2 separate regions of the Homo sapiens genome follow, and region 2 is reported to be linked to region 1. Evidence: microRNA targets listed by miRTarBase, many of them from high-throughput screens and not tested one by one. Region 1 holds a microRNA gene; the other region holds the end of a gene's coding sequence.
What was found. The annotated mature microRNA hsa-miR-5009-5p reads UUGGACUUUUUCAGAUUUGGGGAU and lies in region 1 at 3,023-3,046, shown strand. An mRNA with a match to its seed (bases 2 to 7 or 8) in the 3' UTR can be bound and repressed. Matches are read on the target gene's strand: a 7mer-m8 pairs with bases 2 to 8, a 7mer-A1 pairs with bases 2 to 7 and ends in A, and an 8mer does both.

Region 2: miRTarBase lists NDOR1 as a target of hsa-miR-5009-5p. Seed matches in the 3' UTR shown: 7mer-m8 at 1,619-1,625.

What each region holds. Positions count from the first base shown.
Region 1 is chr15:89,881,514-89,887,032 of GRCh38, reverse strand. It overlaps MIR5009 (microRNA 5009), which reads left to right and starts at 3,003; the gene lies at 3,003-3,102. The region is part of intron 7 of ARPIN-AP3S2 (ARPIN-AP3S2 readthrough); the gene reads left to right. All of the region lies in intron 3 of AP3S2 (adaptor related protein complex 3 subunit sigma 2), which reads left to right. It also overlaps the pseudogene RNU6-1111P.
Region 2 is chr9:137,216,037-137,221,036 of GRCh38, forward strand. NDOR1 (NADPH dependent diflavin oxidoreductase 1) reads left to right here. Exons shown (of 14, transcript NM_014434.4): 13 at 58-152; 14 at 236-3,325. The coding sequence ends at 380. It overlaps RNF208 (ring finger protein 208), which reads right to left. Exons shown (of 2, transcript NM_031297.7): 2 at 4,223-5,000. The coding sequence ends at 4,391. LOC122513141 (ring finger protein-like) reads left to right here and starts at 1,458. Exons shown (of 1, transcript NM_001395982.1): 1 at 1,458-3,325. The coding sequence starts at 1,961. The coding sequence ends at 2,566. RefSeq lists enhancers at 1,169-1,908, 1,909-2,648, 2,649-3,388 and a silencer at 1,328-1,505.

The DNA of each region.
Region 1 (5,519 bases):
CTTGAGGCCAGGAATTTGAGACCAACGTGGTCAGCATGGTAAAACCATGTCTCTACTAAAAATACAAAAAATTAGCTGGGCCTGGTGGCATATGCCTGTACTCCCAGCTACTTGGGAGGTTGAGGTGGGAGAATCGCATGAACCCAGGAGGCGGAGGTTGCAGTGAGCCAAGATTGTGCCACTCCACTCCAGCCTGGGCAACAGAGTGAGACCCTGTCTCAAAAAAAGAAAAAAAGCTCAAGATCTAGCATCAGAAAATCTGGGTTTGGGTCATGAATCTACCATCTGAAAAGTGATATTAGGTTGTAGAATTCAAATGTGAGAATGTGCTTTATAGTACTGTTAACTGTATGTAGCAGGCTATAGAAATGTGTACATAATACGAGTTTATTTGAAAATTAAGGAAATATAGTGATAATGTATTTTAAAAATTGGGATGGAGTGCTTGCCTCAGCAGCATATATTCTAAAAGTGTACCAGTGCAGAAAAGATTAGCATTGCCACTATGCAAGGATGACATGCAAATTGGTGAAGCATTCCATATTATAAAAAATAAAGAAAATTTTTTAAAAGAGAAAAAAAAATTGGGCCACAGTTATTAGAGAAAATGGACCTTGGAGATTTGTATTAACAATACAAAAAGACTAACTTTATAACTTTTTTTACTTTTTTATTTATTTATTTTTTTTGAGATGGAGTCTTGCTCTGTTGCCAGTCTAGAGTGCAGTGGCACGATCTCAGCTCACCACAACCTCCGACTCCCTGGTTCAAGCGATTCTCCTGCCTTACTCAGCCTCTCGAGTAGCTGGGATTACAGGCACATGCCCAGCTAATTTTTGTAGTTTTAGTAGCGACAGGGTTTCACCATGTTGGCCAAGATGGTCTCGATATCCTGACCTTGTGATCCGCCCGCCTCGGCCTCCCAAAGTGCTGGGATTACAGGTGTGAACCACTGCGCCCGGCCTCTAACTTTATAATTTAATAGACACTTATTAAATATTTAGTGTACATTGTACATTGGATTTGGTAAGATCAGATAAGTAAAATGTAAAAATAATAGGAACTAAAAAGTTTGATTTTTTTTTTTTTTTTTTTTTTGAGACAAGGTCTTGCTCTCAAACTGTAGTGCAGTAGTGTGATCACAGCTCACTGCAGCCTCCATCTCCCAGGCTCAACCCATCCTCCTACCTCAGTCTCCTGAGTAATGGGGCCTACAGGCATGCGTCACCACATCTGGCTAATTTTTTGAATTTTTTAGAGATGAAGTCTCACCATGTTGTCCAGGCTGGTCTCGAACATCTCAGCTCAGGCAGTCTTCCCACTTTGGCCTCCCAAATTGCTGGGATTACAGGTGTGAACCACTGGACCCATCTGATCTTTGAAAAGACAATAAAAATTAATAAATAGTTGGCCTAATTGATATAAAGAAGATAGAAGTCAGAAATAGAAAACATTGTTTTAAAGGGATGATATATACATAGTTATACTACCAATATATTTGAAATAGCCGACTACAAAAATAACTGCTCTGGCCTGGGGCAGTGGCACATGCCTGTAATCCTAGCACTTTGGGAGGCCAAGGAGGGTGGATCACTTGAGACCAGGAGTTTGAGACCAGCCTGACCAACATGGTGAAACTTCGTCTCTACTAAAAATAGAAAAATTAGCTGGGCATGGTGGCACATGCCTGTAATCCCAGCTGCTTGGCTGTTTGGGTAGCCAAGGCATGAGAATCACCTGAACCTGGGAGGCAGAGGTTGCAGTGAGCTGAGATCACACCATTACACTCCAGCCTGGGCAATAGAGCGAGACTCTATCTCAAAAAAAAAAACAAGAACAAAAAACTGCCCAAATGAGGTCAACATAAAGGCACTGAAATAATATTAGGATGAAATAATAGATGTTAAAAAAAGAACTGACTCCCTAATGGGGTCACAGTAGAATTTTTTAAAGTTGAAGTACATTAAAACCTGGATGTTACATTAAGTTATTTTTTAAAACTTAGAACAAGGAATCCTACTACCTAAGCGCATTTTATGGAATAAATTGGTTATCATCCAAAAACCTGACTCTAAAAAGGAAGATGGGCCAGGCACAGCGGCTCACGCCTGTGATCCCAGCACTTTGGGGGCCGAGGCAGGAGGATCACGAGGTCAGGAGTTCGAGACCAGCCAGGCCAATATGGTGAAACCTTGTCTCTACTAAAAATACAAAAAAAATTAGCTGGGTGTGGTGGCATGCGCCTGTAGTCCCAGCTACACGGGAGGCTGAGGCAGAAGAATCGCTTGAGCTGGGAGGCGGAGGTTGCAGTGAGCCGAGATTGCGCCACTGCACTCCAGCCTGGGTGATAGAGTGAGACTCTATCTCAAAAAAAAAAAAAAAGGGGAAGATGTTCGTCAAATATTGCGTATTAGTACTGGTACAAAATTACTTACTAAGTAAAATCTTAGCCGACAATCAGTTGAACCAAGGGATTGTGAGACCTGCCTTTTTTTTCTTTTTGACTCTGCCATTAACAAGCAGTGTGACCTTAAACAAATCATCTAGGCTTTATTGGCCTTAAGGGTTTTTGTTTGTTTTGCATTTTGTCTCTTCTGTGTGTTGAGTGGTTTTTTTTTAATCTACAAAGATACTAGATATTCTTTTCTAGCCCTAAAATTATTTCTTTAGCAGGAAAACTGCATACTATTAAATAGAAGAATTATACATTGTGTCCAAATAGTATTTATCCCAAGAATGCAAGTCAGTATAACAAAGAAAAATTAATAGTCTATTATAGCAGTAAGAAAAACTAATATAATAAAAATTAGTAGTTGCTGAGAGGAGCGATTATACAAATTATATTAAATACACTCAAACTGGAATAAGAAGCATTTTTGATTAAAAGTACACATTTATTAATGTAACTGTTTACTTTCTGAAGAAATGAATATAGTTATGTGGTTCAGAATTCAGAGGCACACTATGAGTATACAGGTTGAATATCCCTTTGAAATGTTTGGGACCAGAAGTGTTTTGGATTTTGGACTTTTTCAGATTTGGGGATATTTGCATTATACTTATCCTAAATCTGAAAGTCCAAAACCTGAAATGACCAATAAGCATTTCCTTTGAGCATCATGTTGGCACTCAAAAATTTTGGATTTTGCAGTGTTTTGGATTTCAGGTTTTTGGATTTTAAGTGTTCAACCTGTATAGTGAAAAATATCCTTCTTCCCCTTTCCCCTTATCACCTAGTTTACTTTCCTTGAAGCAATCAATTTTAGTTTCAAAACCAAGAGCCAAGAACCAGAGCCAATGTTATCTCAAGGGTGAAATCTGTAGGCATTTATGAATGCTCTTGTTGGGTGTTTCGTCCAGGTGCAGTGGCTCATACCTATAGTCCCAACCCTTTGGGAGCCTGAGGCAGGAGGATCACTTGAGCTCAGGAGTTCAAGACCAGCCTGGGCAACATAGTGAGACCTAGTCTCTATAAAAAATCAGGTGGTGTGCCCCTGTGGTCCCAGCTACTCATGTGGCTAAAGCAGGAGGACTGCTTGAGCCCAAGGGGTTGAGGTTTCAGTGAGCCATATTCATGCCACTACACTCCAGCTTGAGTGACAGAGCGAGATTCTGTCTCAAAAAAAAAAAAGGAGTATCTTTTATTGTTTACTCTAATTTTAACAAACATTTGTAGTGAGTGATACAAAAACAAATGAAGAAGTGACATAGTAAAGAAAGAAAGAGAGGTAAGTTATCAATGTAAGGTGGCCGGATTATGGACATAGAAAATATTTTTAAAGAATTATAAGTAAGGAAATGATATGAGCAAAATGACAGAATATGAGATAAAGCCAACAAAATTAAATTTCCTATTTCTGAGAAAACAGCTAGAAAATTCATAATTAAAGAAGTCTCATTTACAGTAATAATAAAGGATAGTTAGTGCTTGGGAATTAACTTGGTATGGAATACTTGACATTGATTCCAATAAAATTATAAAATCTTAAAGAAAAAACAAAGGAATAGTTGGAACAAATGGAGCTACAAACTCTCCCGTTGTTGGGAAGAGTCAAGCAAAGATGACAGTAGTCCCAAAGGTGGTGAGCAATACATCAAATGGAAAACCAAGTATAATTCCGTCAGGAGAGTTTATAGAACTCAGTAAAGGCAAAATTTATCAGGGAAAAGGAGTGGCCAAGAAATGCAGAAGTATATTTCTAGGGAAAAAGGACAGTGATGGGAGATTTGCTTTACTAGTTTTCAGAATGTATAATAGTTACAGATGAATTGATTATCTAGAAAATCCAAATCAGTTGGAAACAATTGGAACTAATAATAGAGTTCTGTAAGGTGACTAAATACAAGTTTAACATATGGAAATTAGTAGCTTTTGGCCAAGCACAGTGGGTCACGCCGGTAATCCCAGTCCTTTGGGAGGCCGAGGCGGGCAGATCACTTGAGGTCAGGAGACTTTGAGACCAGCCTAGCCAACATGGAGAAACCCCGTCTCTACTAAAAATACAAAAAATTAGCCGAGTGTGGTGGCACATGCCTGTAATCGTAGCTACTCAGGAGGCTGAGGTAGGAGAACCTCTTGAACCCAGGAGGCGGGGGTTGTGGTGGGCTGAAATTGTACTCTGGCCCGGGCAACAAGAGCGAAACTCCGTCTCAAAAAAAAAAAAAAGAGTAGGTCAAAGCAGAACAGGGGGGTAAAATGAGTGTTCTCAGCTGATTCAGGTAGCAGAGCACCTAGGATAACAGACACTGGATACTTTGTTTCTTTTTTTAATTAATATGAATAAAACTACTCTAAGTCTTTATGCAAACGGTTGTGCCTATTCTGCTAAAAACAGAATGCCTGGATCAAAGGGAATTAATATTTCTAATCATAATGCATGTTGCTAGATAGATATTTAGAAAGAGTATGTTAGCCAGGCACGGTGGCTCACACCTGTAACCCCAGCACTTTGGGAGGCCGAGGCGGGCGGATCACCTGAGGTCAGGAGTTCAAGACCAGCCTGGCTAACATGGTGAAACCCTGTCTCTACTAAAAATCCAAAAAGTTAGCCGGGCGTGGTGGTATGCACCTGTAATCCCAGCTACTTGGGGGGTTGAGGCAGGAGAATTGCTTGAACCCGGGAGGTGGAGGTTGCAGTAAGCTGAGATCGTGCCATTGCGCTCCAGCCTGGGCGACAACAGTGAGACTCCATCTCAAAAAAAAAAAAAATGAAGAGTATGTTAATTTATAATGCCTCTAGTACTATATAAGTTTGTTTCCTTGTAACTCCAGTACTGAAATGTGTCATTTTAAATTTCTACCCAGGTAGAGGTACCTCACACATTTGAATTTTTATTAATCATGCTTCCTTTTTCCACGTGTGGGTTTATAATTTTGTTTTCCATGTCAGCCTTCTATAATATAATTGAACCACTTGTCCAGTGAAATCTAGATCCTGGCTTATAATGTCATATTTTGTATATTCTAAGGTGCGCATTTTATCACACTTCAATAACTCTAAAATCTGGATGTGTGTTGT
Region 2 (5,000 bases), not on the chromosome of region 1:
GGGAAAGGAGGGGAGGGAGCTCCGGCTCAGCCCCCAGCCCTGTTCTCTGCCCTACAGGAGCAGAAAGTATATGTGCAGCACCGGCTCCGGGAGCTGGGGTCGCTTGTGTGGGAACTGCTGGACCGCCAGGGTGCATACTTCTACCTGGCAGGGTGAGCTGGCCTGCGTGCAGCAGGAGTGGGCCCAGCCCCTGAGTGCCAGGCCTCATTGCGCCTTCTGCGACCTGCCCCTCTAGCAACGCCAAGTCCATGCCAGCGGACGTCTCGGAAGCCCTGATGTCCATCTTCCAGGAGGAGGGTGGACTCTGCAGCCCGGACGCAGCCGCGTATCTAGCCAGGCTCCAGCAGACACGGCGCTTCCAGACAGAGACGTGGGCCTGAGGCCCGCGGCTGCCCGTGCCCCCTCTGACAGCCATCCTCCTGGGAGCCCAGGAAGGCATCCACGAGGGAGCTCCTGGCCAGCAGCCGTCATCCTCTCGGACCAGCCAGCTGGTCCTCTGGGAACAGCCAGCTCCCGAGCACAGCCGCACTCCTGTTGACCCTGGATCCCACCCTTTGAGCCTGACCCCACTGCAGCCTCTGCCCAGCCAGCCCTGCGCTCCCCCACCCTGACAGTGAGCTGTGTCCTCGTCCCCCCACCCCCTTCCCAGTCAAGGTGGTGGCCTGGGCCGCTCCACCTCACCGGTGCAGTGACCCAGGACGGCATCAGCAGCCCAGTGAGCACCAGGGGTGGCATAGGGCACCCATGAGGCTGCGCTGCACTCCTCTGCCCTGGGGCCACCTCGGCTGCTGCAGCCTGCCCAGCAGCACATTCCAGTCACTGCCCCCGCACTCCCACAGGGCTCAGGCTGGGCTCAGAGGCCACTGAGATGCCAGCTCCTTGAGAGCAGTGGGGGTGTCCCAGGCCAGAGCAGCCTCTTCCTCTCCTGGTCCCAGAAAAACCCTTGCAGTAAATGGTGGCCTCTGGGTGGTTACTTCTAGCGCAGGCTTCCTTCCTTCCTCTAGCTCCTCCCGGTGCCCTGGGTGCTGGGTGCTGGATGGATGGGCGTCCTCTAGCTCCTCCCGGTGCCCTGGGTGCTGGGTGCTGGATGGGTGGGCGTCCTCTAGCTCCTCCCGGTGCCCTGGGTGCTGGGTGCTGGATGGGTGGGCGCCACGGTGCACCCTTGTTGGGCTGCCTGTGCCCGAGTGGCCTCTGCAGCTCTTATGTCTGCCTCTAATGGGATGTGCGCCCTGACTGCCTCGTTCTTAAGGGCATAGTGGGTCGGCTAAGATCTGATCGCCAGGACTGCGTTCTGGGCAGGTGCTGGGAAGGCGGAACCAAGCCGTCCGTGCCGCTAGGGAGCCGAGACTGCCGGAAAGAGGAGCGGCAGGAGGGGGCGTGGTTGTGCAGCCCCACCCCCGGGAGGGGCTTTAGGCACTGGGAAGGAAAGTCCTGTTGGAGGAGTTCGGTGGCTGTTCACACCCGCCTCGCTGTCTTGGAGTCTTGATCTGTCGTCGGCGGGTCGCTGGCACAGGACTAAACATGGCTGAGGCTGGGCTCCAGCCAGATCTGGCTGGGGACAGCACCGCGTGGGCCCAGGATCCACCCAGAGCAGGCAGGCCTTGCTGGGGCCCCAGTCAAGTCCACTTCCAGTGAGGAGAGCCAGCCGGGAGGTCAGTGCCAGAGCTCTGGTGGAGCCCAGACCCTGCCTTCCCTGAGGGCCGCCCCTGTCGCCGCCCTGGGGTCCCTGTCCTCCTATCCTGACTCCTGCCCCAGGGCCACCACCCCTGAACTGTGCCCTGGGGCCCCCACCCTCCACCTGGCCGACTCCAGCTCTGGGCCTGTCAGTCCACCTGGGTCCTCTCTGGGCCCTGAGTGCCTGGACCCTCTGTGCCAAGCACCAGCAAGCAAAGGGGATGACCTTGGGCACCCCCAAGGTGCTGAGACTACAGCCAGTGAGCCCCTGCTGGGGGCCAAAGCCATGGAGGGTGCCTGGGCCCTTCCAACCTGGAAGGAGGAGGGGAGAGAGCAGGCAGCAGGGCAGGGGGAAGAGGAGGAGTGCCCGATCTGCACAGAGCCCTACGGGCCCAGAGAGCGCCGCCTGGCCCTGCTGAACTGTAGCCACGGCCTGTGTGTGGGCTGCCTGCACAGGCTGCTGGGCTCGGCCTCCAGTGCCGACCTGGGCCGGGTGCGCTGCCCGCTGTGCCGCCAGAAGACGCCCGTGCTGGAATGGGAGATCTGCCGGCTACAGGAGGAGCTGCTACAGGCCGACGGGCCCTCACGCCAGCCCCGCCGAGAGGCCCCTGCATCCTATCACCGCAACCCTGGGCCCTGGGGCTCCCTGGAGCACCGCTACCAGCTGCGCTTCCTGGCAGGGCCCGTGGGCGGCCGGGGCTGCCTGCCCTTCCTGCCCTGTCCACCCTGCCTGGGTGCCCGGCTCTGGACCCTGCGGGAGCGGGGACCCTGTGCCCGCCGCCTGGCGCTGCTGAGCCTGCTGGCCCTTGAGCTTCTGGGGCTGCTGCTGGTCTTCACGCCGCTCCTGCTGCTGGGACTGCTCTTCGTGCTCCTGGACCGCTCTGGCCGCTGAGCAGAGCCCAGGACAGCCCCGCCGCCAACAGGCCAGGGGGCCCAGACTGGCCCACGTCCCCATGCCTGGGTGCTGTGAGGCCTGATGACCAGGCTGGAAAAACCCAAGGTTGGGTCCAGGGCAGTGGCCTTCAATCAAGACCTCCCATTGCTGAACCCACAACCAGGGCTACCCAGAGGCCTGACCCTGCCAGAGTCCATGGCTGCACTGCTGCCCAGACACTAGCTGAACCCAAGGACACCAGCGCCCAAGGACAGCTCCTGGAGGAGGCCAGCCCAGCAGGAAAGTCTGTGAGCAGGACCCCATTCACCCTGCGGCAGACGGGCACCGTACTGGCCACGGGCTGACGCCGGCCACACTTCCCCTCCGAGGGCCAGCTGAGCACAGCAGGCATGAAAGCAAACAGAGATACAGCAGTGAGTCAGTTCCTTGGAGAGGGCAGGGACTCCGCCCACCCTGTGTTCAGATAAGGGCCAGTGTGTGTCCCTGAAGGTCAGGCCAGCCGGGGGAGGGGTCCATGCTGCGAAAATTCAGCCTGCAAAGGCTCCTCTCCCCACTTGATCAGGCCCAGACCAGGTGGGGGTTGGCGCTGGCCTGTGTTGCAGGGGACAAGGGCCCACCCAGGCCTTGGAACATAAGCTCTGCCCCTGCACACCCTCATGTCACCACACCTGGGATGGAGACATCAGGTGGCCCAGCGAGAGATGGAGGACTGATCCTGGAACGTGAAGCAGCTTTCAATAAACCAGCTCCTGGGGATGCCATTGTTACTACTTGTCTTTGTTACCCCATCTTCACCATCTGGGCGGGCTTTTTTTTTTTTTTTTTTTTTTTGAGACAGAGCGTCACTTAGTCACTCAGGCTAGAGTGCAGTGGCACGATCTCTGCTCACTGCAACCTCCACCTCCCGAGTTCAAGCAATTCTTTTGCCTCACCCTCCTGAATAGCTGGGATTACAGACATGCACCACCACACCTGGATAATTTTTTTTGTATTTTTAGTAGAGAAGAGGTTTCACCACGTTGGCCAGCCTGGTTTTGAACTCCTGACCTCAGGTGATCCATCCGCCTTGGCCTCCCAAAGTGCTGGGATTACAGGCGTGAGACACCGCACCCAGCCTGGGGCGGGCTCTTCCTCCCACCCAAGTGGTCCAGGTGCCAGACAGGAGGCGCTGGGTCCTTATTCCCCTACCACCATTTCAGCCAGTCTTTGTCCCTAACTCCTGCACATGCCCAAAGGCTACTCCCACACAACCCTGGAAGACCCAGGTGGGTGCTCAGGTCCAGATGGGCACCAGGAGGGAAATCAACTGAGTTGTCCCCCACACAGGCACCCCCACACCATTGAAAATGTCCTCTCTGCCCAGCTGGGGTGTCTCTGCACACCCACCAGGTAGTCCTGCCAGGCGCACACAAGCAGCCCACTCTGTACGTGTGGGGGTTTGCACCGACACAGCCCACCCGGCCCTCCTGAGCTGCATGCACAGCCCAGCCTGGCCCCCAGTGCGCAGGGCAGGCCCAACCCGAGCAGCGCTGGGCCTCTCTCTGGCAGCTCCAAGCTGGGCCCTCTCTGGGTTGCAGCCCTGGGTGCCCACCCTAGGCCCAGGCCTGAGCACAGCCCACAGGAGCAAGCTTCAGTCCAGGAACAGGTGCAAACTTTGGCAAAGAGTTTTAATGGCAAAGTTGGCTGCAGCGACAATGCCACTCGGGGTGGGGCCGGAAGCCATGGTGGGGAAGGAAGGGTCAGCGGGCGGCAGGGCAGGGCCGGGTCCCTGAAGAAGCAGCGAGCGAGGCTCAGCGGGCAGTGGCGGGCAGGCAGGCGCTACTACATGATGGAGCAGGCGGACAGTGGGTTCCGCACGTGGCAGGTGCACGCGGCCCCACAGTACTGCCGGAAGGTCTGGTAGCAGCTGCCCTCGGGCTCAGCCCCCCACTGACCCCCGGATGGGGCCGTCAGCGCCTCAGGCGGCAGGCGGCTCAGGATGGACGTGTTGACAGCCAGCGCGGCCAGGCCGTAGTCGGTGAAGAGCACAGTCTCACGGCGGCAGGTGGGGCAGGAGATGAACTTGTACTTGGGGCAGGACTCGTAGAGAATCTGCAGGCACTGCTCACACACAGAGTGCAGGCAGGACAGCACGCGGGGCCTCCGCTGGGTGACATTGTAGGAGTGCCCACAGGTGGGGCACTCCAGGGGCTCGCCTGCCGCCGCCGAAGAAGCCGCCGAGGCCGAGGGGCCAGGCCGAATCACGTACTGATTCACAATGACCTCATCCTCTGGGGCCACGCGGGGAAAGCCCAGCTCCGAGCTTCCCTTACGGGGCCGCCGTGGCAGTGGCGGGGTATGGGGTGCCCCTTCCAAGGCAGGCATGTCCCCCCCACAGGCCTGGTTGACAATGATCTCTGTGTCTGAGGGCCAGGCACGCTTGGGTGCCAGA